Homo sapiens: one gene and its partners. The protein of the gene in region 2 interacts with the protein of the main gene of each other region in a pairwise test. Each region holds a gene or a part of one and is shown on either strand. Other genes may lie near its edges.

Evidence for each region.
Region 1: the proteins of NACC1 (region 2) and EHHADH interact in binary tests that used the Homo sapiens proteins (3 or more experiments, as listed by UniProt).
Region 3: the proteins of NACC1 (region 2) and ZNF512B interact in binary tests that used the Homo sapiens proteins (3 or more experiments, as listed by UniProt).
Region 4: the proteins of NACC1 (region 2) and LGALS8 interact in binary tests that used the Homo sapiens proteins (3 or more experiments, as listed by UniProt).

What each region holds. Positions count from the first base shown.
Region 1 is NC_000003.12:185,202,048-185,209,071, reverse strand, and holds part of EHHADH (peroxisomal bifunctional enzyme), read left to right. Parts: intron 1-4,314; coding exon 4,315-4,656; intron 4,657-7,024. UniProt on the Homo sapiens protein: Peroxisomal trifunctional enzyme possessing 2-enoyl-CoA hydratase, 3-hydroxyacyl-CoA dehydrogenase, and delta 3, delta 2-enoyl-CoA isomerase activities. Catalyzes two of the four reactions of the long chain fatty acids peroxisomal beta-oxidation pathway.
Region 2 is NC_000019.10:13,128,243-13,135,266, forward strand, and holds part of NACC1 (nucleus accumbens-associated protein 1), read left to right. Parts: intron 1-6,957; 5' UTR 6,958-6,965; coding exon 6,966-7,024. UniProt on the Homo sapiens protein: Functions as a transcriptional repressor. Seems to function as a transcriptional corepressor in neuronal cells through recruitment of HDAC3 and HDAC4. Contributes to tumor progression, and tumor cell proliferation and survival.
Region 3 is NC_000020.11:63,959,931-63,966,954, forward strand, and holds part of ZNF512B (zinc finger protein 512B), read right to left. Parts: coding exon 6,946-7,024; intron 6,852-6,945; coding exon 6,211-6,851; intron 6,079-6,210; exon of another isoform or gene 5,626-6,078; coding exon of another isoform or gene 5,582-5,625; intron 5,574-5,581; exon of another isoform or gene 4,975-5,573; coding exon of another isoform or gene 4,934-4,974; intron 4,787-4,933; coding exon 4,560-4,786; intron 4,466-4,559; coding exon of another isoform or gene 4,462-4,465; coding exon 4,390-4,461; intron 4,288-4,389; coding exon 4,141-4,287; intron 3,984-4,140; coding exon 3,859-3,983; intron 3,781-3,858; coding exon 3,688-3,780; intron 3,511-3,687; coding exon 3,412-3,510; intron 3,336-3,411; coding exon 3,165-3,335; intron 2,852-3,164; coding exon 2,657-2,851; intron 2,445-2,656; coding exon 2,343-2,444; intron 2,075-2,342; coding exon 2,012-2,074; intron 1,478-2,011; coding exon 1,379-1,477; intron 210-1,378; coding exon 1-209. UniProt on the Homo sapiens protein: Involved in transcriptional regulation by repressing gene expression. Associates with the nucleosome remodeling and histone deacetylase (NuRD) complex, which promotes transcriptional repression by histone deacetylation and nucleosome remodeling.
Region 4 is NC_000001.11:236,540,963-236,547,986, reverse strand, and holds part of LGALS8 (galectin-8), read right to left. Parts: intron 6,334-7,024; coding exon 6,277-6,333; intron 5,227-6,276; coding exon 5,200-5,226; intron 5,073-5,199; coding exon of another isoform or gene 4,947-5,072; intron 4,428-4,946; coding exon 4,339-4,427; intron 3,238-4,338; coding exon 3,072-3,237; intron 2,826-3,071; coding exon of another isoform or gene 2,766-2,825; exon of another isoform or gene 26-2,765; intron 1-25.

The DNA of each region.
Region 1 (7,024 bases), on a different chromosome or scaffold from region 2:
TCCCACAAAAAGTTTCTTCATGCCCATTAACACTAACTCCTACTCACATCCCCAGCCCTAGGCAACCACTGATCTTTCTGTCTCTATAGATTTGCATTTTTTGGACCTTGGATCTAAATGGCATCATACAATATGTAATGTTTTGCATCTGGCTTCTTTTAGTTAGCATAATGTTTCTGAGGCTCATCTGTATCTGTATTGTAGCATGTATCAACAGTTTGATCCTTTTTATTGCTGAATAATATTCTATTGCATGGCTCTATCAAATTTCTTTAGTCATTCAACAGCTGATGGATGTTTGGATTGTTTCCAGATTTTGCTATTATAAATAATGCTGCCATGAATATTTGTAGACAAGTTTTCTTTATGGCATATGCTTTCATTTCTCTTGTGTAGATTCCTGGGAGTGAAATTGCTGGGTTGAACAATCAGTTTATGTTTATCTTTTTAAGAAACAACTAAACTGTTTTCCAAAGCAATGTGCTGTTTTACACTCTCAGAAGCAACGTATGAGGCTTCTGGTTTCTCTACATCATCACCAACATTCAGTAGTGATGGCTTTTTATTATAGTCATTCTAGTAAGTCTAACTGCATAACAAATGACCCCAAAACTTAGTGGCTTAAAATCAAACATTTATTCCACAATTTCTGTGGGTCCAGAATCCAAGTGTCCTAGGTCCTCTGGCTTTCAGATTTCAAACAAAGCTACAATCAAGGTGTTGTCTGTGGCTGTAGTCATCTCAGGTTGATTAGGGGTCAGGGGGAGAATCTGCTTTCAAACTCACTCAAGCGGTTGTTGGTAGGATTCAGTTCCGTATGGGCTGTTGTACTGAGGGCCTCAGTTCCTCACTGACTGTGGGCTGAAAGCCTCCCTCAGTTCTTTGCCACGTGGGCTTCACCATAGGGTGGCTCACAACAGGGCAGCTGGCTTCCATCAGAGTGACCAATTTGAGAGGGCAAGAAAGTATGAGCAAGACTGAAGCCAGAGTCTTTTTGTAACCTAATCTAGAAATGACAGCCCATTACTTAGAGTCTGTCTACCACATTTGTTGCGGTTTTAATTTGCATTTCCTTAATGACTAATGATGTCGAGCATCTTTTTGTGTGCATATTAGCCATTCACATATGCTCCTTGATGAAATAACTGCTCAAGTTTTTGCCCGTTTAAGAAATTACATTGTTTACCTAATTATTGAGTCATAAGAGTTTGTTACATATTCTGGAAACAAGTTCTTTATTTGATATTTGATGTGCCAATTATATTTTCTATTGCTGTGCTAAAAAATTACCACAAGCTTAGCAGTTTAAATCATCCGAAATTATTTTCTTACAGTTGTGTAGACTAGAAGTATTGTAGAGGTCTCCCTGGGCTAAAATCCAGGTGTCAGCTGGTGCACTCTTTTCTGGAGGCTCTAGGGGAGAAACTGTTTCCTGCTTATTTGGGTTGTTGGCAGAACTCAGTACTTTGCATTGTGGGATCAGAGTCCCCATGTTCTTGCTTGCAAACTTGCGACCTTGTAAACCTTAAAGGTCAATCCCAGCTTCTAGAGAACACTGCATTCTTTAGTTCTTGGTCTCCTTTCCTCATATTCAAAGCTACATCAGTGCCAACAGGTCGAGTCCTTTGCATGTTGCATTTCTCTAACCCTTCTTCCTTGTTGAATCCCCCTCACCACAGTCAGGAAAGATTCTCTGCTTTTAAGGACTCATATGATTAGATTGCACTCAATCAGATAACACAGGGTAATATCCCCATCTCAATGTCTAATTTTTTTTTTTTTTTGAAATGGGGTCTCACTCTGTCACCCAGGCTGCAGTGCAGTGGCACGACCTTGGCTCACTCACTGCAACCTCTCAGGCTCAAACGATTCTCCCACTTCAGCCTCCAGAGTAGCTGGGACCACAGGGGTGCGCCACCATGCCCGGCTAATTTTTTGTATTTTTGGTAGAGACAGAGTTTCACCACGTTGCCCAGGTTGGTCTCAACCTCCTGAGCTCAAAGCAATCTGCCCACCTCGGCCTCCCAGAGTACTGGAATTACAGGCGTGGGCTACTGTGCCCAGCCAAGGTCTTTAATCTTACTCTCACCTATACATCTCTTTACCATGTGAGGTTATACATTCACAGATTCTAGGAATTAAGACATGAACATTTGGTGGGGGGGGTGTTATTCTGACTACCACACAAGTATTTTCTTCTAGTTTATGGCTTGTCATTTCATTTTTTTTTTTCTGTTTTTTTTGGAGACAGAGTCTCGCTCTGTCACCCTGGCTGGAGTGCAATGGCATGATCTCGGCTCACTGCAACCTCCACCTCTCAGGTTCTAGCAATTTTCCTGCCTCAGCTTCCCGAGTAGCTGGGATTACAGGTGCACACCACCATGTCCAGCTAATTTTTTGTATTTTAGTAGAGATGGGGTTTCACCATGTTGCCCAGGCTGGTCTCGAACTCCTGAGCTCAGACAATCCACCCGCCTCGGCCTCCCAAAGTGCTAGGATTACAGGCGTGAGCCACTGCACCTGGCTGTCATTTCATTTTCTTATTGATATCCTTTGAAGAACAAAAGTCTTTAATTTTTATGAAGTCTGATTTCTTGTTTCTTTTGTATGTCATGCTTTTGGTGTTGTATCTAAGAATACTTTGCCTAACCCCAAGGTCCTGAAAATTTTTTTATATTTTCTTCTAGGAATTTTTATAGTATTAGTTCTTCAATTTAGATTTGTGATCTGTTTTCAGTTGATTTTTATATATGGTGCTAGGTAAGGACCTAAATTTTTTTTTTTTTTTATTGTTTTTGGCATGTGGATATCCAATTATCCCACTACGATTTGTTGAAAGATTCTCCTTTTGAGGATTTTTTTCTGAACGATTATTATCTAAAGTGTGTTGTTGCTTTAGGGTCACAGTATGCTTGTGTGCATCTGTTACCATGTCACTGTGGTCCTTCGCTGAGTGCCCTTAGGGGACTAGAATCTTTCCAATAAACCACGTTTGAGATCGTATGAGTCAGCGTGCAGTGTAGCCCACACTTGAGAGTGTGGATTTATGTGCACAGTCACTTTGCTCTGGGTGGAAGTAGGTTATAGTTGACTTACTTTCTCGGTGCTTGTTCCTACAGCCCCTCTTTTCATGTGTTGCTCAATCTCCCTATCCCTTCTTGGTGCTTGCACATCTCAGACCCTTTAGCCAGACCCTTTAGCCAAACCCTTGCCAATAACAGTATTTTTGTTCTCAGTTCTGTTCCCTCTGGTTGCGGAGACTTTGAATAAAAATGCACACACCTATTCAGTGGGATTTAGCTGGAAAAGGTGACCTTCCAACCTCACGTCAACTTCTGGCTCCTCAAACAGTAGGTTGGCAGTAAGGCAGGAAAGTTGTTTTCCCATTTCTCACTGAGCAGATTGTGAATATTTCCATATGGATTTTCTGTTGTTAATGTTGCTCCGATTCTTTGTTTTAAAATAAAAATTCTGAATGTGAAAAAAAGAGACTCTCCTTTCTTCCATTGAATTGTTTGGACACCTATGTTGAAAATCATTGGCTATAATTGTAAGAGTTTATTTGTGAACTCTCGATTCTCTTCCATTGATATATATACCTATCCTTGCATCAATACCACGCTGTCTCCTTTTCTAGGTATTTTAAAGTTTTTGTTACTATTAGGAACGGAGTTAAGGTTATTTTGAATCTAAAATATTCACTCAATAATAGACACTAGAGTCTCTACTACAGGGGAAGGGAGGGAGGATGGCAAAGGTTGAAAAACCAACTTCTGGGTACTATGCTCACTACTGGGGTGGCAGGATTATTCATATCCCAAGCCTCAGCATCGTGTGATATACCCATGTAACAAACCTGCACATGTATGCCCTCAATCTAAAATAAAAGCTGAAATAATTTTTAAAAATTAATAAATAAAATATTAACTCAGAACCGTTTTCCTTAGACTCATTAATATTTAATATATTAATATTAATTACAGATTAAATATTAATCTATTGATTAATTTAATTAATTAATCATTAATCTATTATAAAATTGTCTTGGTCTTGGATTAAAAAGAAAATACAACTTTTATGCCTAAACTAGGTAACCTAAAATTGCTTTGAGTCTACTAAATTCTATCTTGTAGGACTGTGTTGCAAAGATATCAGAGATGTTAGTGTACATATGTTTAGTGTACATTAAATGTCTTAATGAATAGCTTTTAGTTTGTGCTTTGAATTTGAACAGGTTATTGTTATTACTATATATTCACATTCCCTTTGTACAAGTAACATTTCCAAAGCTCTGATCCTTCTTATTCCTTTCAGATCAACCTCTAGAATCCCGTAGACTCTGCAACAAGCCAATTCAGAGCTTGCCCAACATGGACAGCATTTTTAGTGAGGCCCTCTTGAAGATGCGGAGGCAGCACCCTGGGTGTCTTGCACAGGAGGCTTGTGTCCGTGCAGTCCAGGCTGCTGTGCAGTATCCCTATGAAGTGGGCATCAAGAAGGAGGAGGAGCTGTTTCTATATCTTTTGCAATCAGGGCAGGCTAGAGCCCTGCAATATGCTTTCTTCGCTGAAAGGAAAGCAAATAAGTGGTCAACTCCCTCCGGAGCATCGTGGAAAACAGCATCAGCGCGGCCTGTCTCCTCAGTTGGTGTTGTTGGTAAGACCATGGGGTAATGAATGGAATCCTCCAAATCTGCTCATGTAATGTGCTACCATTTGCTTAGGGCTACCGGATGCTAGGTTTCACGTAAGACACATTACTTGTGTTAGCTAAGCTAATTCTCACACCACCCCATGAGCTCTCTTCTTTAACATGAGAGGCCTAGAGACGCCAGCCTTCTCAATGGTGAGCTAAACACGAGTAGGGTGAAAGTCTGACCCTAGGTCTGACTCCAGACTGGGAATGTTTTATTCTTTTTTTTTTTTTTTTTTTTTTTTTTGAGACAGAGTCTTGTTCTGTCACCCAGGCAGGAGTGGAGTGGCTCAATCTCGGTTCACTGCAACCTCCACCTCCCAGGTTCAAGTGATTCTCTTTCCTCAGCCTCCTGAGTAGCTGTGACTACTGCCACCATGCCCAGATAATTTTTGTATTTTTAGTAGAGACAGGGCTTCGCCATGTTGGTCAGGCTGGTCTCGAACTCCTGGCCTCAAGTGATCCACCTGCCTTAGCGTCCCAAATTTCTGAGATTACAGGTGTGAGCCACCATTCCTGGCCTAGCATTTTTTATTCTATGCTACCTCTTCCCTGTATGAATCTCTCATTCCTGGATTTCCTGATGATGATGATTTGTACCACATTTCAAGGTGTGGCCTGTCACTCTCATAGCTGGGTATTTGCAATCAAGTCTCTGTCTTTCCGTCCCCCGATCCATTCACTTCACCTGTTCAAAACCACTATCCTCAAATCCATCTTAACCCTGAAACCATGGCTTCCTTACTTTTTTTCCCTCTGGAATTTTCCCAAACAAAATATCTTCCTTCCTCAGATGCTAGCTCCCTGATTGGCTTCTCTGGGCCACTTTCCTAAGCTTCACTTGCTCTTAGTCTCGGCTCAAGAACGGTCTTTGGTGGATTTTAAATCCCTTGAGATGGTAAGTGAAGCATTCTTTGCACCAGCTTAGGTACAATCTTCTGGGGAGAGGGTCCATAGTTTACTAAAAGCATCAACTTTCTTTCTTTTCTTTTTTTCTTATATTTAAGTTTTTTTAATCATAATTAAAGACATGCAGGAAAGTTATAATAGTACAAAAAATTCTCATATACTTTTTATCCAGATCCTCCAAATGTTAACGTTTTACTATATTTGTTTTATTTCCCTCTCTCTTTTCTGAACCCTAAGAAAAAGTTACAGACTTATGTGTATTTCCTAAAATTAATATTCTCATACATGACCACAGTATAATTTATTTTAAAAAACAGGGCAATTAATATAAAGAACTATTATTTAGTCTATAGCCCTTATTCTGATTTTTCTTTCTTTTTTCTTTTTTTTTAACCATCTTTACGATTTGTAAGTATACAGTTCAGTAGTAATAAATATATTTATATCCTTTTTTTTCCCTTCATCTCCCATCCCCCCCTCCCCTTCCTGGCCTTTGGCAACCACCAATCTACCCTGTATCATTATGAGATCTACATTTTAAGCTCCCACATATGAGTGAGAACATATGATATTTGCCTTTTTGTGTAAAAGCATCAACTTTCTTAACCCTTGCCCAGCTGTCTAGCACAGTGGTCTCCAACCTTTTGGCACCAGGGACCAGTTTCACGGAATACAATTTTTCACGGATTGGGGGATGATGGTTTTGGGATGAAACTGTTCTACCTCAGATCATCAGGCATTAAATTCTCAGAAGGAGCATGCAACCTAGATCCCTCACATGCGCAGTTCACAATAGGGTTCGCGCTCCTGTGAGAGTCTAATACCACCACTGATCCGACAGGAGGCGGAGGTCAAGGCTGAAATGCTCCCTAGCCTGTTGCTTACCTCCTGCTGTGCTAACAGGTCACGGACTGGTACCGGTCCACAGCCAGAGGTTGGCGACCCCTGCTGTAGCACCAACCCAACTTGGAGGCAAAGATCTCACTCCACATTTTCTCAGTCTGTTTGTTCTCTCAATTCAACTTTGGTATCAAAGAATCTGTCTCTAATATAAATACATTGTGCTCCTTTCAGCTCTGACTCTGTTGAGGTCTACCCTTGATTCGCTTGGGATTTTTTTTTTTTTTTTTTTGATATGGAGTTTCGCTCTGTCACCCAGGCTGGAGTGCAGTGGCGCAATCTCAGCTCACCACAACCTCCGCCTCCCAGGTTCCAGCAATTCTCGTGCTTCAGCCTCCCAAGTAGCTGGGATTACAGGTGCTGCGCCACCAAGCCTGGCTGATTTTTGTATTTTTAGTAGAGACAGGGTTTCACTATGTTGTCCAGGCTGGTCTTGAACCTCTGACCTCAGGTGATCCGCCCACCTTGGCCTCCCAAAGTGCTGGAGTTACAGGCGTGAGCCTTTGTGCCCAGCCTCACTTGT
Region 2 (7,024 bases):
CTTAGTCAGCTCAAGCTGCCACACAACAAAATATCACAGACTGGGTGGCTTAAACAACAGACATTTATATTTCAGAGTGCTGGGGGCTGGCAGTCTAGATGAGAGTGCCAGCGTGGTCAGGTTCTGGTGAGGGCTCTCTTCATGGCTTGCAGACAGCTGCCTTCTTAATACCACCGTTATGACCTCAATTAACCTTAATTAGCTCCCAAAGGTTTTATCTCCAGATACAGGCACATTGGGGCTCAGAGTTTCAATCTGTGAATTTGGAGGGACATACTTTGTCCATAGCAGAGCCCTGAGACTGAGCCCAGTCCCCTGGAGGTGAAAACCCTTTCTGGAAGGGCCACACTCCCCATCCACTACTGCCCTTCCTAGATCTCAGCTCCAGTGTCACCCCTTCTGGGCAAGGTCAGGCACCCCAGTGTGTAGCACATTGATCTGTGTGACCAAGGATGAATGGCCCTGTCTCCTGCTGGACTGTGAGCTCCAGAGGCAGGGCTACTTTGTCACCATTGTGGCCTGCCCAGGCAGGGACCTGGCAAATATTTATTGAGTAGTTGTTGGGAAGTCATGGAAACCGTGTGCTGTGCCCTTGGGTCTCACCAGAAGATCTGCTCAGGCCCAGGGCCAGGACTAGGCACTGTCCTGGCCAGGAAGGTCCCAGCTGCCCTGTGGCCTCCTGCCCTTGTCCCCCACACCCTCAGGGGTGCTGATATGCTGAATTTTAAGGAGAGATGATTCTCATATGGTTTTCTGCCCTTGGGGAGTTTATAGTCAAGTGGGACTTAGTTTCCTCAGAGGTAAGCTTAAGGGCACTGTGGCCGGGGTGGGGCAGGAGAGGGACATCTTCTCTAGCCTGGAGAAGTGAGTAGCTGAGGGTGGAGGAAGAGGGTATTCCAGGCAGGGTGCACAGCTTGGGCAAAGGCCTCGCTGCAGTAGAGGAGGACCAGGCAGTGTGTTTGAGCCTGACTTAGGTGGGGATTTGGTGGGGACTAGAACCATTAGGTGGTTTAGAGACCTCAATCCTCGACTCCATCCCACCCCTGCTTCAGCCAGCAGGTGACCCTGCTAGGGACCTGCCAGCGAGAGACCCGTTTCCTCTGAGTCCAGTCATGCTAGCTCCCTTCCTGGGGCTAGCGTGGGTGAGGGCTTCTTGCAGGGGCCCACATAGTTTTTCTCCTGAGTCCATTGGGCAGGATTGGGCCGGATTGGGCCAATCACAGAGGGATGGAGGGGTTCCCAGAGATGGGTCTGCTCTGGCCCACACTGCAGCTCACCCCTGTCCACTCTGTGCGGGGGCCACTGGGGAACTAGACGAACAGCATTCAGGTCACTGTGGCTCACAGACCCGTCGCCCCACTCCGCTCGTCCCCAGCAGCATGGAGGGAGGGAGAGCTCCCGTGCGCTAATTGGCTGAGCTATTTGGACCAATTGCTAATCAAAGGCTCCAAAGCCCTGGGTGCTGTGGTGCTGGGCTCTGAAGCTGAGGTTCACAAGGTATGGGGGACCTCAGTCTGAGCATCAGGTTGGCTCTCATTCTCAGGAGGGGACCTGGGCCACCTTCCCAACCCCCACATCTCTGTTGCCTCCTATTATCCCCGTAACCTTTCAGTCTCCATTGCCAAATGGGGGGGTTCAAGACCAGCCTGGACAACATAGTGAGACCCTGTCTTTAAAAAAAAAAAAATTACCTGTGGCCGGTGCTGGGTGCTTGGTAAGGTCACCTTGAAGCAGTCCTGTGCCCGTTCTGCACTGTTTTGTTTGTTTGTTTGGTTGGCTGGTTGGTTGGTTGGTTTTGGTGGGGTAGTGGGGTCGGGGGATGTGGTTTTTTGTTTTTGCTTTTTTTGTTTTAGAGACAGGGTCTCGCTCTATGACCCAGGCTGAAATATAGTGGCACAATCATCACTCACTGCAGCCTCTAACTTTTTGGCTCAAGTGATCCTCCCACCTGAGCCTCCCAAGTAGCTGGGACTACAGGTGCAAGCCACCAAGCCCCACTAATTTTAAAATTTTTTGTAGAGATAGGGGTCTCACTATGTTGCCCAGACTGGTCTTGAACCCCTGGCTTCAGGGGCTCCTCCTGCTTCTGCCTCTCAGAGTGCTGTGATTACAGGCGTGAGCCACCGTGCCCAGCCTCTCTGCACTGTTCTTTAACACATTTACAAATATTTACTGAGCATCTATTTCATTCTAAAGAACTAATCTTGAATAAAACCAGCCAGAATGTTTGCCTTCATTGAGCTGACAGTGCCCTTGGAGGGGTTAACTGTACATACACCTCTTTTTTCTTTTCTTTTTTTTTTTTTTTTTTGAGATGGAGTATCACTCTGTTGCCCAGGCTGGAGTGTAGTGACTCGATCTCAGCTCACTGCAACCTCCACCTCCCAAGTTCAAGTGATTCTCGTGCCTCAGCCTCCTGAGTAGCTGGAACTACAGATGTGCACCACCACACCCGGCTAATTTTTGTATTTTTAGTAGAGACGGGGTTTCACCATGTTGGCCAAGCTGGTCTTGACCTCCTGACCTCAGGTGATCTGCCCGCCTCAGCCTCCCAATGTGCTGGGATTACAGGCGTGAGCCACCGCGCCTGGCCTGTACATATAACTCTTAAAATGCTGCCCTGACCCTGGGGCTCACTTTCAAAGATGTCCACACTCTGTAGGCCAGGACCCCACCTGTCCCATACCCTTCCTGGCAGCCCTGTCCCTGCTACATCGCCCTTCAGCTACACCAGCTTTCTTTGGGTCCCTGGACCACACCTGATACCTTCCCGCCCAGAAGTGTTATCTCTGTCCTGGCAGTTGCTCAACCTTTTATGGTCCCTACCACCAAGGCCATCTGCTTGGTTGACATACCCACCCCAACTGTAATTAAATCATCCCCGGTGTCTCCTCACTAGACAGCTCCACATAAGCACAGCTGGTCCTTTTAGGGCTGTGTCCCCAGCACCTCCCACAAAGGAGGATGCAGTTCATCAGGATGGGTTGGATGAACAGCCCATTTTACAGATGAATAAACTGAGGCACAGGCAGGTGCAGGATTTTGGCAGCACTGCACACCTGTCCTGGCTTTGTCCTCCTCCCTGGGGAATGAGCTTGGAGCACCCCTCTAGGAACTGGGATGCCAGCCTCTTCCCTTGACCATCTTGGTCCTTGTCATGTGGGCCCCAGTACCAGGGGTGGCTTTAATTTGGCTGCCCAGGGAGGTGGTTCAGGGCTGCCAGGACCCCTGAAGTAGGCTCTCTGGGCTCTGTCCTTTGCCCCCCAACATGGTGCCTGTTTCTCCTGCCTCTTCATGCAGAGTGGCCAGCTCCTGGCCCATTCAGCTCTGAGTTTGAGCTCCTGGGCGGAGATTTTTGTTGCCTTGTAACTGGGATTCCTAGATCCAGCCTCCACCCTCTGATTGCCCTAAGGAGGTTTTGGGGTTTTGTTTTGTTTTGTTTGTGTTTTCGTAGGATGGTGGCAGTGATTTTGAGGAGGGGAAGAGGAAGGAAGATACAAGCAAGGGAAGTCACAGGCTGTGGTGCCTAGGCAGACCCTGGTTTGAATCTTGGCCTTACCACTTTTTGCATGTAAGTGGTAGGGGCAGCAGATAGCTCAGGACATATCTTGGGTTTTTTTGTTTGTTTTTGTTTTGAGACATAGTCTCACTCTGTTGCCCAGGCTAGAGTGCAATGGCACAATCTTGACTCACTGCAACCTCCACCCTCCCGGGTTCAAGTGATTCTCCTGCCTCAGCCTCCCGAGTAGCTGGGATTACAGGCACCGGCCACCACACCCAGCTAATTTTTGTATTTTTAATAAAGATGGAGTTTCACCGTGTTTGCCAGGCTGGTCTCGAACTCCCGACCTCAGGTGATCCACCTGACTCGGCCTCCCAAAGTGCTGGGATTGGCCAGGTGTGGTGGCTCATGCCTGTAATCCTACACTTTGGGAGGCCAAGGCAGGTGGATCATTTGAGGTCAGTAGTTCAAGACCAGCCTGGCCTATGTGGTGAAACCGCATCTCTACTACAAGTACAAAAATTAGCCGGACATGGTGGCACACGCCTGTAGGCCCAGCTACTCAGGAGGCTGAGAATCACTTGACCCTGGGAGGCGGAGGTTGCAGTGAGCCGAGATGGCACCACTGCACTCCAGCCTGGGTAACAGAGCAAGACTCTGTCTTAAAAAAAAAAAAAAAAAAAAAAGTGCTGGGATTACAGGCTTGAGTCATCCCGCCCTTCAGGACATATCTTTTGAATTTTGAACCTGGTGAATGAATTTTTAGATGACCTCAGGACAGTCCTCAATTTCCACATGACCTCAGTTTTTCCAGCTTTGCAAGGGGAGTATGAAACCAGCCCTGAAGTCTTGCTAAGAGGATTCGGGGAGCTCATAGAAGTTGTGAGTTGGTTCCTCCATTCGCCTGGGTGTTGTAAGGGGCAGGGCCTGTGTCTTGCTTGTGGCCTGCCAGGGTAGCAGCTCAGTAAGTGAGATGGTATCTCACTGTGGTTAGGATTCACATTTCCCTGATGACTAGTAATGTTTCCGTGTAATTTCTTGAATGATCATTCAGTAACAATAAGTGTAGGTTGAGTTTGTAGAATCAGGTTGACCTCCTCAGCCTCGATTTCCAAATGGAGAAAGCAGAGATTTGGAGCTCCTGGTCAGAGGAGCAGGTCGGTGCTGGAGCCAGGACTCAACCTTAGGTTGTACCTCTGAGCCTTTGAACACTTGCCGTTTCTATTCCTCACAGCAGCCCTTTCAGACGGAACGGGTGTTACCAGATTAGGAGGAGAGTGGCCACTGTATTCTCAGTGCCCAGCCCAGGGAGGCAGATCTGAGTGGAGTTGCTAATGAAACATGGAAGGTGCTTGAGAGCTAACTGGAAGGGAGGGAAGGTGTGCATTCCTGCACCAGGGCCTTTGCATGTACTTGTTACTTTCTCCTGCTGGCCAGCTGGAGTGTCTGGAAAGATCTGCCTTACTCAGGGAAGCCTTCTCACTCGCACTCTGCCCAGTTAGGACCACTGCCCTCTAGAGACCCTATAGAATTACAGAGGAGGCCGGGCGTGATAGCTCACACCTGGAATCCCAGCACTCCAGCCTGGGCGACAGAGTGAGACTCCATCTCAAAAAAAAAAAAGAAAAAAGAATAAACCCCACACACCTTTGCCTTCCCTTTGCTTTCCCTCACCACACCCCCATTCTCCCCGCCTCCCAGCCCCTGGCAACCACTAATCTGCCTCCTGTCTGCGTGGATTTGCCTGTCCTGGACATTTCCTATAAATGGATCATACAATCTGTGGTCCTTTTGTTTGGCCTCTTTCTGTTGGAATAATCTTTTCCAGGGACATCCATGTTGTAGCATGTGTCAGAATTTCCTTTCTTTTTATAGCTGAATAATATCCCATTGTATGGACTGACCATGTTTAGTTGGCCCATCCATCCGCAGATGGACGTTTGGATTGTTTCCACCTTTGGGCTATTGTGAATAATGCTGCTGTGAACGTTTGTTTACAGGTTTTCAATGCAGGCAAATGTTTTCGTTTTTCCTGGGCATAAATTCCAGGAGTGGAATCGCTGGGTCATATGGTAACTCTCTTTAACCGTTTGAGGAACCGTCAGACTGTTCTCCATGGTGGCTGTGCCATTTGACATTCCCACAAGCAGTGGAAATGGGTTCTGGATTTCTCATCCTCACCAACTTTTTTGATTCCAGCCATCCTAGTGGGTGTGAGATGGTGTCTCATTGTGGTTAGGATTTGCATTTCCCTGATGATGTTTTCTTCTAATTTCCCTGATGACTAGAGATGTTTTCATGTAAGTTATTTATTTATTTATTTATTTTTGAGACAGTGTCTCTGTCTGTATCCCAGGCTGGAGTATAGTGGCGCAATCACAGCTCACTGCAGCCTTGACCTGGGCTCAACAACAGATCCACCCCCCACCACACCCTCCCTAGTAGCTGGGACCACAGGTGTGCTCCACCATGCCGGGGTAATTTTTGTATTTTTCGTAAGAGGCAGGGTTTCACCATGCTGCCCAGGCTGGTCTCAATCTCCTAGGCTCAAGTGATCCACACGCCTTGCCCTCCCAAAGTGCTGGGATTACAGGCATGAGCCACTGCACCCAGCCTCATGCAATTTCTTTTTCCTTTTTTTTTTTTGAGACAGTCTTACTCTATGCCCCAGGCTGAAGTGCAGTGCCACAATCTCGGCTCACTGCAACCTCTGTCTCCTGGGTTCAAGTAATTATCTGGCTTCAGCCTCCCTAGTAGCTGGGACTACATACCCACACCACCTTACCTGGCTAATTTTTGTATTTTTGGTAGACAGGGTTTTGCCACGTTGGCCAAGCTGGTCTCGAACTCCTGGCCTCAAGTGATCCGCCTGCCTCAGCCTCCCAAAGTGCTGAGATTACATGAGTGAGCCACTGCGCCTGACCTCATGTAATTTCTTGAGTGGTCATTTAGTCATTATACAAACAGTGATTGAAGGGCATGTGCCCAGCACTGCAGACTCTGCTGCACAGTCAGATGACCCTGCCTTTCTGGCATTTCCATGCCAGTACCCTGAAGAGATACCATATATGTACCTGGTGCTTGCAATAGCTGGCACTCAGAGGTAGCACACTGTGTCCTAGCCACTCTTCCGAGCACTTAAGCATATTCAGTTACTCTTCAAGTACATATGAATAAGTATGCCTTTGCCCCCTCCTCTTTGCAAGGGATAGCGTGTGGCCACCCTGGTCTGCAGCTAGCTTAGCAGATTTGACCACATATTGTAAAAGTGAGTCTGTACCAGGACAGATAGGGTAGAGGGCTCTGTGTGGTTTAGCACCATGGTAGATTCCATCGTGCGGATGTCCCTCCAGCAGGGGAGGTCTTTGGGGCCAGGGCTAGGCCAGCACCCACATTTGCCGCCTGACCCCGTCCCTCCGTCTCTGTCTCTCCATTCCTCCCTGCCCCTCGTGCAGCCGCTGCCATGGCCCAGACACTGCAGATGGAGATCCCGAACTTCGGCAACAGCATCCTGGAGTGCCT
Region 3 (7,024 bases), on a different chromosome or scaffold from region 2:
GAGCCCCGGGCCCCCTTGTCTCTGCATCCTGGAGGCCAGTCGTCCCGGCGCGGGGGCAGCTTGGCCACAGGCTCCTCTGGGGTCCGCTCCTTGGGCTTTCGGCCCCGCTTCTTTCCACCTGCCAGATTTTTCTTCTTTTCCTTCTTGGGCACCAATGAGTCCTGGCTCCTGTGTTTGGGAGGTGGGTCTGCTGATGTTCGGAACCAGTTCTGGGGAGAGAAAAGCGCTGATGAAGACCTGGGACTGGATGCTGAGCACCTGAGCCAGGCATAGCCTGAGAGCTGAAGACCTGTCAGCCTTCAGGACCAGGCAAGCACCTGCAGCAGGGCTGGACACAGCCTTTAGGACCAGGCAGGCACCTGCAGCAGGGGGCTGAACACAGCCTTCGGGACCAGGCAAGCACCTGCAGGGGGCTGGACACAGCCTTCGGGACCAGGCAAGCACCTGCAGCAGGGCTGGACACAGCCTTCGGGACCAGGCAAGCACCTGCAGCAGGGCTGGACACAGCCTTCTGGACCAGGCAAGCACCTGCAGCAGGGGGCTGGACACAGCCTTCAGGACCAGGCAGGCACCTGCCGCAGGGCTGGACACAGCCTTCAGGACCAGGCAGGCACCTGCCGCAGGGCTGGACACAGCCTTCAGGACCAGGCAGGCACCTGCCGCAGGGCTGGACACAGCCTTCAGGACCAGGCAGGCACCTGCCGCAGGGCTGGACACAGCCTTCGGGACCAGGCAGGCACCTGCAGCAGGGGGCTGGACACAGCCTTCGGGACCAGGCAAGCACCTGCAGGGGGCTGGACACAGCCTTCGGGACCAGGCAAGCACCTGCAGCAGGGCTGGACACAGCCTTCAGGACCAGGCAAGCACCTGCAGCAGGGCTGGACACAGCCTTCAGGACCAGGCAAGCACCTGCAGGGAGCTGGACACAGCCTTCAGGACCAGGCAAGCACCTGCAGCAGGGGGCTGGACACAGCCTTCAGGACCAGGCAAGCACCTGCAGCAGGGGGCTGGACACAGCCTTCGGGACCAGGCAAGCACCTGCAGGGGGCTGGACACAGCCTTCGGGACCAGGCAAGCACCTGCAGCAGGGCTGGACACAGCCTTCGGGACCAGGCAAGCACCTGCAGCAGGGCTGCTGGGGGCTGGAAAGGCGGACACCCCGAGGGCAGCTCCAGCTCAGGGTGCAAGCCTCCCAGTTCTCCCAGGGAAGCCAGACCCCACTTTGAGGAGAAACTACCAGATTTCTCCACATTGGCCACTCTCCCAGGCACACCCCATGCAGGCCACTGACCTCTCTACCCCCAAGGGGTGCCCAACCCCAGCCCTGTCCCCTCCTGGGCTAGCCCCCAGCCACAGGCCCTGGTGATGGCCCTCGCACCTCTGCGTGGGTCTTCAGGATGTGGTATTTGACGCCACTCTCAGAACTGAACTCCTTCGGACACAGCAGACAGCGGTACTTCCCTGCCAGGTGGGCCCCCTGCAATGCATAGGCAGGCCAGTGCCCCAGCCCTTGGAGGACCCAGATCTGTCCTAAGCCCCTACTCATGGCTAAAGGGTCAGAGTCAGCGGTGGCCCAAGGAAAGCTGTGGCTGTCTGTGCCAGACAATGCAGGGGGCCACTGAGTTACCAGGGCGGCAGGGGTGGTAGGGGAGAGGAAGGGTAGGGAGAGGCAGGTGCCCAGGGGAAGAGTTGCAGACCTTTGCCGAGCATCCCTTATTGTAAGCCAGTGTGCCATCTGCGTGGGTCGGGGTGCCCACCCATGCCTACATGGACGCAGAGCTCCAAGGACAGGACTAGGACTCGTTGTCTTGTGGCTGGGGTTGGGGCGAGGGAGGTGTCCTAGGCTGGCCATCAGCCACCGGCCAGTCTCTGGGTTCGTGGAAGAGGAGGCCACGTAGAAAAAGTAGGGGACAAGGCAGGGTCCCTCACTACTGTGTGGGAAGCCCGCGTGGGGTGAGCTGGGAGCTCTGAGTGCAGCGCACCTGGCCGTGGGGCAGGCCCCAGAACTGACCTTACTGCAGCTGGCGAGATGAGCCTTGAGTCCGGACACGCTGGAGTAGATGGCTTCACAGCACTGCAGGGAAGGGAGCCGTGGGCGAAGGCCTCTGGTGGGCACCCCACACCAAGATATACCCCTGCCCTACCCCAGGGGATCTCTGAGGCTCTTTGGGGCAAGTGAGGGGGTGTGAGTCCTGGGGACTGGGCAGGCTGGGCATGTGAGGCCTGGGGTGGGCTTGGGCACCTCCTGAAAGCTCTCAGCCTCTGTTCCTGCTCAGAGGGCCACACCCAGGCTCTGGCCCTGTATGGCTCCCCACGCCCCCCACCCGGCTGCCTCCGCTCACGTCGTTGGGACAGTTGACGTGGCCTTTCTCCTTCACTTCATTCTTCCATGCCTCTAGCAGCTGGGGGTTCAGCGTGGGGAGCCCTGGTCGAGTGTAGTTGAGCTGTGAATTCGACAGCACCAGGGTGAGCCTGAGGCCAGAAGACACCCCAGCTGCTCTAAGAACACTCGCCTCGGCAGCAGGCGACACTCGCCGCAGATGGCGGGGGCAGCGGGTGGCCCAGGTCACAGCAGTGGCTGTCCCAAGTCTCAGGCCAAGGCATGCCCCACGCAGAGGCCACGGCGCTGTCCACAGCCCTGGGGGGGGCAGCTCACCCGTGCGGTCTCGGGCACAAGGTCATCCTTCATGCGCCGCTTGGTCCAGTCGCGGGCCAGCTCGTCCTCCGCTATCTCCTGCAGGTGGAACACCGCCACCTGGGCCGACGTGCGGCGGACACGCCCGCTTGGGGTCCGCTCCACACCCAGCGGGTCCTCAGCCTCAGGGGACTTGTCTGTGGGCTCCTCAGGGGGCTGGAGGGCAGGAAGGCATGGAGGCTAGAGTGAGCCGCGGGAGCAAGAGTCAGGTCAGCGCGCGGCGAGGCCACCCTAAGGCCGGTGGACCCACAGGCCTCCCAGTGTGCTGGGGACATGGCTGACGCAGGCAACCCGAGGGAACACGGAGGTTTCACCCTCCCGCCCACCAGGACACACGTCTCTTACAGAGAGGGGTGGGAAACACACGCGTTGGGCGGTACATGGACAAATACAGTTGGCACCCAAGGCACACGGAACACACACGGCACACAGGAACAAGCACTGTGCCACAGAACAGAGAGCCACTCACGGGGGCCGTGTGCTCCGAGCGCACGTGGTAGTCGTGGCCAGCCTTGGATCGGTACGTCTTGCCACAGTGGGTGCAGGGGAAGGAGGGGCTGTCCACCTCGCAGGGCGGCTTCCCGCAGCGCCGCTGGTGGTACTGGTAGCCCATGAGGCTGGAGAAGGCAGCCCCGCAACCCTGGGGGTCAGGCCAGAGGGTGGGTGAGTGGCCAGCAGGGCCCCCCCACCCCACACTGCCGCGGCCCCCCACTGACCTCCTGGGGGCAGCGCAGCCGTCCCATCTGCTTCAGCACCTTGCGCAGCCTCTCGCGCTCCTCCTGCTCGCCCCCTTCGGAGGCCTCGGCGTCAGAGGGCTGGGGACAGGGTGAGCATCGGTGACCCGGCACCATCGCCACGGAGCCCTGCCCTGGCCCCGCCCCGCCCAGGTGTTGGGCCACCGTTGTCCGAGGTTAGAAACCGGGGGCACTGCGGTGAAGGTGGGGTGCGAGGTCAGAGGTCACGCTGGACGGGAGCTGGGGGCCCGACGGTACCTTGGCACTGTGCTCGGCCATAGTGTGGTAGTTGAGGCCGGCTTTGGACTTGAACTGCTTCCGGCAGTGCTGGCACTTGAGTGCATCCTGAAGCTGCAGATGGCCCACATGTGAGAAGCCTGCCTGGGGCCAGGGCGCCTCCCTCCCAGCGCCTTCCGGGAGCTGCCTTACCTTCTGACACACCTCCATGTGCTTCTTAAGCCCCACGAGAGTCTTCCGGGTGACCACGTTGCAGGTGGGGCAGACGGCTTCCCCGCGCTCATGGATGGCCCTCTGCCACTGCTCTTCAGGGCCACCTGTGGGTAAGGCAGGGGCCTCGAAGGCTTGTGGGGGCTGCTGGGTGGCCCAGACGCCAGGCACAGAATCCAGTCTCCACACTCAGCCCCCATCCCTGTGCTGTGGGATCTACCCGCCGTCTAGAGCTGCCCTGAGCCCCTGCCAGGCAGCCCCTACCTGGAGCTGGGTGGGCCACAGGGGCCGGTGCCTCCTTGCTGACAGTGATGGGGGCAGCTGGCACCTTCTTCCGGGCGTCCTCAGGGCCTGGCCCCTCCTGCTTCTTGGAGCGGTGAACTCGGGCCTTGTCCTCAGCTTTGACCAGGCCTGTGTGCACACATGGGGTGGAGAGAAACAGGGATGGGCTCAGGGGCTGTCACTCGGTGGACAGCCCCAGCCCTGGAGGTGCACACCGGGCTGGGGTCTTACCTTTGAGCCCAAAGGTCCCTGAGATGGATGGCTGCTCCCCTGTAAACTTTTTGGGTGTTTTCTGTTTCCTTCCTGACTCGGGGAGAGAAAACGGGGGCCAAGATTCTGGTGAAATAACCGTCAGGAGGCCGAGCCTGCCCCGGCCGCCACCCCTGGAGCTCTCATCTTACTGTGCTTTGTGCGCTCCGGGTCCTCCTCAGGCGGGGACGCAGGGCCTGCAGCCTTCAGTGCCTCCATGCCCCCTGACGGCCTGCTGCCTGGCGACAAGGAGCCACTGCTGGTGTCTGCACTCAGCTGGAAGGCCGAGCTCTGGCCCATGGAGGAGGGGCCGTACTCCCCATTCTCTGGCCTGGCCTGCTTGGGTGGAATTGGGCAGGTGTCCAGGCTGTCCGCAGCCCTGCAGGGAGCAGGTGAGGTGAGGGCCAGGAGGGCCTAACTGTGGGCCCCATTACCCCCAGGCCGTGGCCGAGGAGCACCCTGACCTGGAACGAGCCCCCATACCTTTTCTCACCACTGTTCCCCGACCTGGGACAAGCCCCCATACCTTTTCTTACCACTGTTCCCTGACCTGGGACGAGCCCCCATACCTTTTCTCACCACTGTTCCCTGACCTGGGACGAGCCCCCATACCTTTTCTCACCACTGTTCCCCGACCTGGGACGAGCCCCCATACCTTTTCTCACCACTGTTCCCTGACCTGGGACGAGCCCCCATACCTTTTCTCACCACTGTTCCTCCCCGACCTGGGACGAGCCCCCATACCTTTTCTCACCACTGTTCCCCGACCTGGGACGAGCCCCCATACCTTTTCTCACCACTGTTCCCTGACCTGGAACGAGCCCCCATACCTTTTCTCACCACTGTTCCCCGACCTGGGACGAGCCCCCATACCTTTTCTCACCACTGTTCCCCGACCTGGGACGAGCCCCCATACCTTTTCTCACCACTGTTCCCCGACCTGGGACGAGCCCCCATACCTTTTCTCACCACTGTTCCCCGACCTGGGACGAGCCCCCATACCTTTTCTCACCACTGTTCCCCGACCTGGGACGAGCCCCCATACCTTTTCTCACCACTGTTCCCTGACCTGGGACGAGCCCCCATACCTTTTCTCACCACTGTTCCCCGACCTGGGACGAGCCCCCATACCTTTTCTTACCACTGTTCCCCGACCTGGGACGAGCCCCCATACCTTTTCTTACCACTGTTCCTCCCCGACCTGGGACGAGCCCCCATACCTTTTCTCACCACTGTTCCTCCCCAACCTGGGACGAGCCCCCATACCTTTTCTCACCACTGTTCCTCCCCGACCTGGGACGAGCCCCCATACCTTTTCTCACCACTGTTCCCTGACCTGGGACGAGCCCCCATACCTTTTCTTACCACTGTTCCTCCCCGACCTGGGACGAGCCCCCATACCTTTTCTTACCACTGTTCCTCCCCGACCTGGGACGAGCCCCCATACCTTTTCTTACCACTGTTCCTCCCCGACCTGGGACGAGCCCCCATACCTTTTCTTACCACTGTTCCCCGACCTGGGACGAGCCCCCATACCTTTTCTCACCACTGTTCCCTGACCTGGGACGAGCCCCCATACCTTTTCTTACCACTGTTCCCTGACCTGGGACGAGCCCCCATACCTTTTCTCACCACTGTTCCTCCCCGACCTGGGACGAGCCCCCATACCTTTTCTCACCACTGTTCCCCGACCTGGGACGAGCCCCCATACCTTTTCTTACCACTGTTCCTCCCTGACCTGGGACGAGCCCCCATACCTTTTCTTACCACTGTTCCTCCCCGACCTGGGACGAGCCCCCATACCTTTTCTTACCACTGTTCCTCCCTGTGGCACGAGGTGCTTTGTTCTCCGACCTGGTCAGCAGCACCATTTTGCAGGGCGGTGTGTGTCTGCTGATAGCAATGGGCCTGCTGACTGTCACCGGCTTGCTGACCACAATGGGCCTGCTGACTGTCACTGGCTTGGTGACCGGCACGGGTTTCGTAACTGTCACAAGCTTTGTTACCGTAATGGGTTTGGTGACAGGTACGGGTTTGGTGACCGGCACAGACTTGGTGACTGTGATGGGTTTGGTGACCGGCATGGCCTTGGTGACGGGCATGGGCCTGCTGACTGTGACAGGTTTGGTGACTGGCACGGGCCTAGTGACCGGGATGGCCTTGGTGACTGGCATGGGTCTGCCGACCGAGACTGGCTTGCTGATGCCAATGGGTTTGCTGACACCCACAGGTTTGCCAATAGTGACAGGTTTGCTCACTCCGATGGGCTTGCTGACCCCAACAGGCCGGCTGATGGTGACCGGCCTGCTGATGGGCCCAGGCTTGGAGGCAGGCAGGGGTCGGTCCATGTGGTTCCAGATCCGGTGTTTCTCCAGCTGGGTCTTAGAGGTGAATGCGGCCTCGCAGAAGGGGCAGGGGAAGGCCAGGCGATCTGAGATGGCACCCTGGGCAGGGAAGGGAAGGTTTGGGACAGGGCCCCAAGGGCCTCTGCCCAAACACACCCCGAGGCCTCCTCTCCCCCGACCCACAGTCCCTTACCCCTTGGCACCGCTGGTAATGGTACTTGAGCCCGTAGATGCTGGGGAACTCCAGCCAGCACCCTGAGTTTGGACACTTC
Region 4 (7,024 bases), on a different chromosome or scaffold from region 2:
AGTGGTTCCCCTTAGTTTAAAATTTTGTGTTTGTTACATGCTAACGGTGTCAGAGTAAACCATTTGATTATACATAGAAAAGTTCCAGCCTGCTGCTGCTGACTTCCTTCTGACTTCCAAGACCCTAATCTAACTAAAGTGTCCCTGGTGGTGGCACTGTCTGCCTCATCCCACCCAGGGAAGTGACTCGGACATGTTTGGAGCCTCACACCATCCCCAGGGCCTGCGGCCCTCCTTTCCTCAACACAGCCCCTCTCCCTCGGCCGCATCCTGCCCCTTGCTCCTGGAAAGCCAGAGTGCTGCCCCTCCTCGCCGATGCTGGGGACTCTCCTAAAGCAGGAAAACTCACTCCTAATATGGTTGCTTTAGTTCACCGAGATGCTGTTTCCAGCTGTAGCCTGGAACCAAGGGACTTGGATCCTGACTGACTTTTCTGCCTCAAACTCTAGGACCATGAACAAACCAGACAATTAATATGAAATTTCAGCAGCTTAAGGCACTTGCTAGGGTTTTTACAGCTGCTTGGTGATCCTGATCCTGATAAGCTCAGCACATCTTGGCCTCAGTGTGTTTGTCCAAAGCCGTCAAAGCTGGGTATCCCGTAAGTTGGAAGTGGTGCACATACTACAAATTCAGATCCATCGGCAGTGTTCGCCCTTCACAGTCATCTATGCCCAAAACTCAAACAATGAAAAACCAAAAAACCTACTAGCCTTTTACATCACCTTTACACCTACACTTCATACTTCTGGTGCCACGCTGCCAGTGCCAGGCTGGGTTTCCACCCACTCTGAGAAGGCCACTGGGAGGCCCTGCACTGAGCTCTCCCTGTGCTCCTCGCCCCCATGAAGGCTTCAGAAGAAAGAGGGGCAGCTCAGCCTTGCTGCTAACCCGGCCCCACCCCGAGAGGCCAGAATGAAGCACAAAACCTGAATCTGCAAAGCAGCAAGTTGAGGGTTTCCATTCTTTTGATAGGAGCAGTGGAAAGGACTGTCAAGGAAAATCAGGAAGGGGAGGAAATTTCAGCCCAAGTCCTGCACTCTGATAACAGCTGGCCAAGATGAAGCTTCTGTGGCTACAGAGGATTGGGGAAATAGGTGTAACCTGAGATTCTATCCCCACAAGAATGGTGGGAATCCCAGTTCCAACCAGGTAGAAGGGACCCCAGATATATTTAACAAAATCTCAAGAAAACACAAAACACACAGCCTGATGCTATAGCTCAGAAGGAAAACCAAGTTGGCAGCAGAGGGAGTCAATTAGTTACCTGTACTGTATCAGAGCAAGTGCAAAGCCAGTGAATTACAAGCAAGTGGCAAAGAAATGACATGCTTCCGGGTGAGCAGACTACTGCAAATGAAAAGAAGGCACATCCTTTGCCTAGAAGAAAACAGAACAACAGAATCCCTCACAACCATCTGATGCTGCCGAACAGCTGGAACACGGATTTCATCCAGAGGAAGAGCCCACAGATGAAATTACAACACTGAATGAGATTGTTTTTAAAAAACTGTAGATACAACTAAAGTGTATTTGAAAGAGCAAGAAGATTTAAAATGAAAGTAATGGCATAATGGAAAGACCTGAGATAATCTCAATGCAAGCATATTTAAAAGGCAAGAGATGGAAGCCCCCGGAAAGGACCTATCAGTATAGAAAATCGTCAGCAGTGATCAACACAAGGATAATTACTGCTCCTGAATTAGAAAATTAAATGGAAAAGACGATTGTTCAAAAGCATATAACATTCATCTATTCATTCCTTCAGCCAGCCATCCCTTTCACTGTCTCTGCAAAAAAATGCCTGGAATGTGGTTCACCTAATCCTAATGGTATGGTTTGAATTATGAAGTTGGAGGTATTTTCATCTTAGTATTTTTCAGCATTATTTGAATGTATCATTATTATCCTTTTTTATATTAATATAGCAGATCCAAACTTGGGGCCCAGATAGGTCAAAAACAAGTTACATCATTGGTTTCCTGTCACCCACCACAAGGCTCAACTTCCTTCTAGAGCACTCACCTCTGTTTCCCTCCAGTGAACCCCAAGTCACCCTTTGCGCCTTGACTCTTGCCAAGCTAACAACCCTGTGCTGCCCTTCCCACCTCTAAGGACTTGTTCAAATCATGCCCTAAATCTAGAAAAGCCAACCTTCAGCCTTCCACATCCTTCCCAGCTTTCTGAATTCCAAACCAATATCCACAACTTCAGGGAACCTTCCATGATTAGCCCACATCTGTCTACACTCCACATACCAGGGCACTGCATTAGACTGGAACTTAGGGATAAATATGAATGTCACATTGCTATCTATTCCGCCTGATATTCATGCTTTTAGTAACGAGTTTTGATGAGTCCTCAAGAACCCACATGGTCCAGACAATGTGTCAGTTTAAAATGCTGTAGAATGATAACCTAAACCAATGACCCTAAGTGACTGTGTGAGGCAGTGGCACCTGAGCTGGTGATTGAGGCTGGCCAAACACCCGGCATCCGCATCACAAGGAGACTATTCTCTGCTCAGCATCCCAGAAACATATTTCGGGAAAGGTATGTGTTACAATATTCACCTATCTGGGGACTCAGGACTGCATGCCTTTTAGTTCCAAGGGACTGATGTATTTTTCCTTGAATACATACAAACAAGACTAACTCCTTAGGAGAAAGGACTGCCACCTGAAACCGTCTACCCTGATGGGAGATGATGGCCAGTGCAAGCAAGCAGTTTTAGGGTCTCCACGTCCTCAAGTCTGCTTATATGATTAAATGTGTGACTCCAGTCCTGAGACAAGCTTCCTGGTTAAATTCCTATCAATATGGGGCTACACAGGAATTTTAATATGATGACAAATGTCAATTCCAATGTGCATAATTTGACACTCTACTGGCTTTGCCATTTATACTGATTGCCCACGTTATAAAAAGGGGCAAATTACAATCTCCAAGTAAACAAAAAACATACACAACTTCCACATACTGAGTTAGGACTTGATTTAAATGGACCACTTATCCCACCCCTGCTCCCAGGATTCTTATTGCTGTCCCATTTTCAAAAACTGTAACCTCACCTCAAAGTACATCCCAGGACTAAATGGGAAAGAGGTAATATTTCTCTCTTCTTCTCCCCAGGACTCCTGAAGAAAAGAATTTCTTACAAATGCTTTAATATTCAGGCGTGGGTTCAAGTGTAGAGCAATATCCTTTGATTTTCCTGCTAGTAGGTCAACATTAAAGCTTTTGAGAAAGAAAGAAAAAAAAAAACCTTAATTAACCAAGTAGGACAGAGTAGTGGCAATTTCAGCAATGTTAGTGACCAGACTTGAACTATGATTCTAACTCTATGAAACACACGTATCCACATGGACATGGGAATGCAGGTGAAGTTGAAATTTTAAACCCAGTCAGCATTCCACTAATTCGTTACTTGCAAAATAAAAATACGAAAAAAAAAACCCTTTAAAATCAGCGTTGAGGCTGAGATGTGGTTGGACAGAAATGGAAGGTTTAACGCTAAACTGAATGACTACTTCAGGCTGCAGGAGCCTGGGATCCTCTCAAGCAGGTATTCTCTTTTCATCATCTACCCGTGTTCCTTCCTTCTTGAAAGTATGCCACTTTCTAGGAAATAGCTCTAATTTCAAGCTTTCAGAAGGCTGGACGTCTGTGGAAAAAGTTGTTAAAGCAGAAATTTTCTAAATCACATGACAAGAGGGGCCCTAAAAAATGTTGCCTGGGCTGGGCGTGGTGACTCACACCTGTAATCCCAGCACTGGGAGGGCGAAGTGGGCGGATCACTTGAGGTCAGGAGTTCCAGACCAGCCTGGCCAACATGGTGAACCCCTGTCTCTACTAAAAATACAAAAATTCAAAAAGTAGCTGGGCGTGGTGGTGCGCCTGTAATCCCAGCTACTCCAGAGGCTGAGGTAGGAGAATGGCTTGAACACCCAGGAAGCGGAGGTTGTGGTGTGCTGGGATTGTGACACTGCACTCCAGCCTGGGTGACACAGTGAGGCTCCATCTCAAAAAAAAAAAAGAAAAGATGTTGCCTGATCTTACGGGGCTGCTCTGGAGTTCTACAAGGCAAGGATAGGCCTCGTGGACAAAAATGCTACTCTCTTGTCTGGCCAGAAAAAGCCGAGGTCAGAACACGGCCTTAGTCGGCTCTGCTGCCCACTGGCTGTTCACAATCTAACCACCTCCTGCTTGAATCATCTCACTTTGGAAATGAAGATTCTGACGCTAGCCCTTCTTCCAGCTCACAGGACCGTTCACGGGTGGAAGGCGGTAACAGGCACGGAAGTATCTGCACTGTGACTGGTACCGAAGGATACTGACCTTTTGGCATTTGCATTCACTTCTCCTTTAACGACGACAGTTCGTCCAGGGCCCATGGGGGTGTTCAACCTTGCAGCGAATGGCAGCCTCTGAAAAGAAGCCACAGTCAGGACCAAGAGGCCTGCAGAAAGCGATCTCCAGGGAAAACTCGTGTCCAAAGAACACTACGGAATGTTTCAGAGCCATGACCCTGTAAATCCCAGGAGGGGAGAGACAGTCTGCCTTGGTCCCAGCTGGGTCCCCTGCAGCAGCACTGTCCCTGGCTCGAAGCAAACACACATGATTACATTTTAGACGATGAAATGAGTGACAGGGTGGGACCCGATGCCCTCTGTATGAGTGAAACACGCCAGGAAGGCCCCCTGTGCCTGGGGTCTGAGGCAGTACTGTGTTCTGCCTGAAGGGGAAGCAGCCAAGCAGGGAGGTGCTGAGGAAATACACAGGAATGGCTCAGAGGCAGGCCTGGTTGACTCTCGAATCCGTCCAGGGACGGCACACAAATGCAGAGGGGGCTGCTTTGGGCCTCTATTGTGGATACAGGTTACTCGTAACAGCTCATTACAACTTAATTTTTATATAGAGTTAAGAAAATTTGGTGCTCTTCAAACCTTTGACACATAGTTCATAGGTGGTATTTTGGTGCAAGTCAAAGTGTGATTGACAGTCGAATCTTTGCTCTTGGTGTAGACAGTTCTGGGTGCGATTTTAGAAATGTCTCCTCCTCTATTACTAGGCTGTAGGGAAACAGTTCTACAGTAAGGAATGGAATGAATGAAGCTGCCCTCCACGGTTTAAACTGTTCATTTTCTATGCAACTTTATAAAATATTCCACATGAAATAACCCAGGCAAAAATACTCACAAGCTGGGGCGTGCCAGACTTTGGAACCTATTGGAAAAGAAACAAAACACAACAATGTTAGAAGGGGAAGAATTATAGTTTATAATCTGAAGTCTTGGTTGTGCTGAGCTGAGCCTGGCCGGAGCCTGGGATGTTCCTGCTCCACTCTGGTGTGACCTCCAGGCAGCTGGTGCTTTATGACGGAATGGTATGGTGTTGTGAAGGGCTACACGGGTTGAGAAGAGAGTCTGATATCCCTGTTCATCTGAGTCCTTTATCCTCCACCATAAATTAATAATTTTTCATAGAACTATATGAAATTTTTTTAAGAGACAGGGTCTTACTCTGTCATCCACACTGGGATGCAGTGGCTCAATCATGGCTCACTGCAGCCTCAACCTCCTGGGCTCAAGTCATCCGCCTACTTCAGCCACCCAAAGCTGGGATCACAGCCATGCGCCACCATGCCCAGATAATTTTTTAATTTTTTGTAGAGATGGGGTTCTCCCTATGTGGCCCAGGCTGATCTCAAACTCCTAGGCTCAAGCAATCCCCCCACCTCAGCCAAAGCGCTGGGACTACAGGCCTGAGCCACCACCTTCACCCAGCACTACATGAACTTCAAACGTGTCTTAGTTGTCCTTTCCAGGGTGCCCCCAGAATGCTAAGATTCTGTTCTGTCTGTGAGGTGTGAACGTGCCAGTCGGTAAGACCTCACTTTCTCCATTAATAACAGCGCATTTTTAAATTGCAGTTATTCTCCCAGGGGTTGAAGATACACATGGAAGTTCATTTGCCAGTGCACTGGCTGATGTTCAATATTTGGAAATACCCCAGAACAGTACTATTCAGCAGTTAAGAGTGAGAGAGTGCTTTTTACATAAGAACAGTGAGTGGCAGTTACAGAAACTGACAGGTGAATCATCAGCAAAAACTTACTGCGTGCCTGGCACCACAAGTATGTATCTCAATTTTCAAGTGATTACTTGCGTTCTAAAAGCATAATTTTCAAAAACCCAGCCTTCTTGCCATTTCATTAACATGGCAGCTAAAACAACATTTTTAAACCAGTGGCTCATTAAAAGATTTAATATTTACATTTTCTCTACTTATCTCTGTCAGTTCCAGACTAGATGCTTGGGTACTTTGTAAGTCCTGAGAAAAGATAATAAAGATTAATTTGTAACATCCAGTAGAAAATATTTTCTAAATATTTTATATTGACATATAAAAAAATTATAAATGGTACTAAAAATATGCTTGAAAACTATGATCCAAAAATACACTTGACACTGTGGTCCTTTCCGCCCCCCATCAGATTGGCAAACATTACAGAGAATAAGATGTAATGTCAGCAAGAAGGTGGGAGCATGGCTGTTGAGAGTGCAAACTGTTTTTACCCTTGTGAAGGGCGAGTTAGTATCTATCAAAATTTTCAATGCAAAGACAGTCATGTGTTGCTTAACGAAGGGGGTATGTTCTGAGAAATGTGTCCTTACATGACTTTTGTCATCGTGCAAACATCACAGAATATTACTTAACAACCTTAGATGGTACTGCCAACTACACACCTAGGCTGTAGGGTGTGGCCTATAGCTCCTGGCCAGTGAATCTGTACAGCAGGCACTGTACCAAATACTGTAGGCAACCAGAGCAGGATGGTAAGTATTTGTGCATATAAACTTACCTAAACATAGAAAAGGTATGGTAAAAATACAGTATATGACAATCTTATGGGACCACGGTTGTATATGTGGTTCATCTTTGACTGAACTGTCCTTATGCAACACATGACTGTGCTCTTTGACTCAGGCACTCCCAGCCTAGGAACCTGTCTTACAGAAAT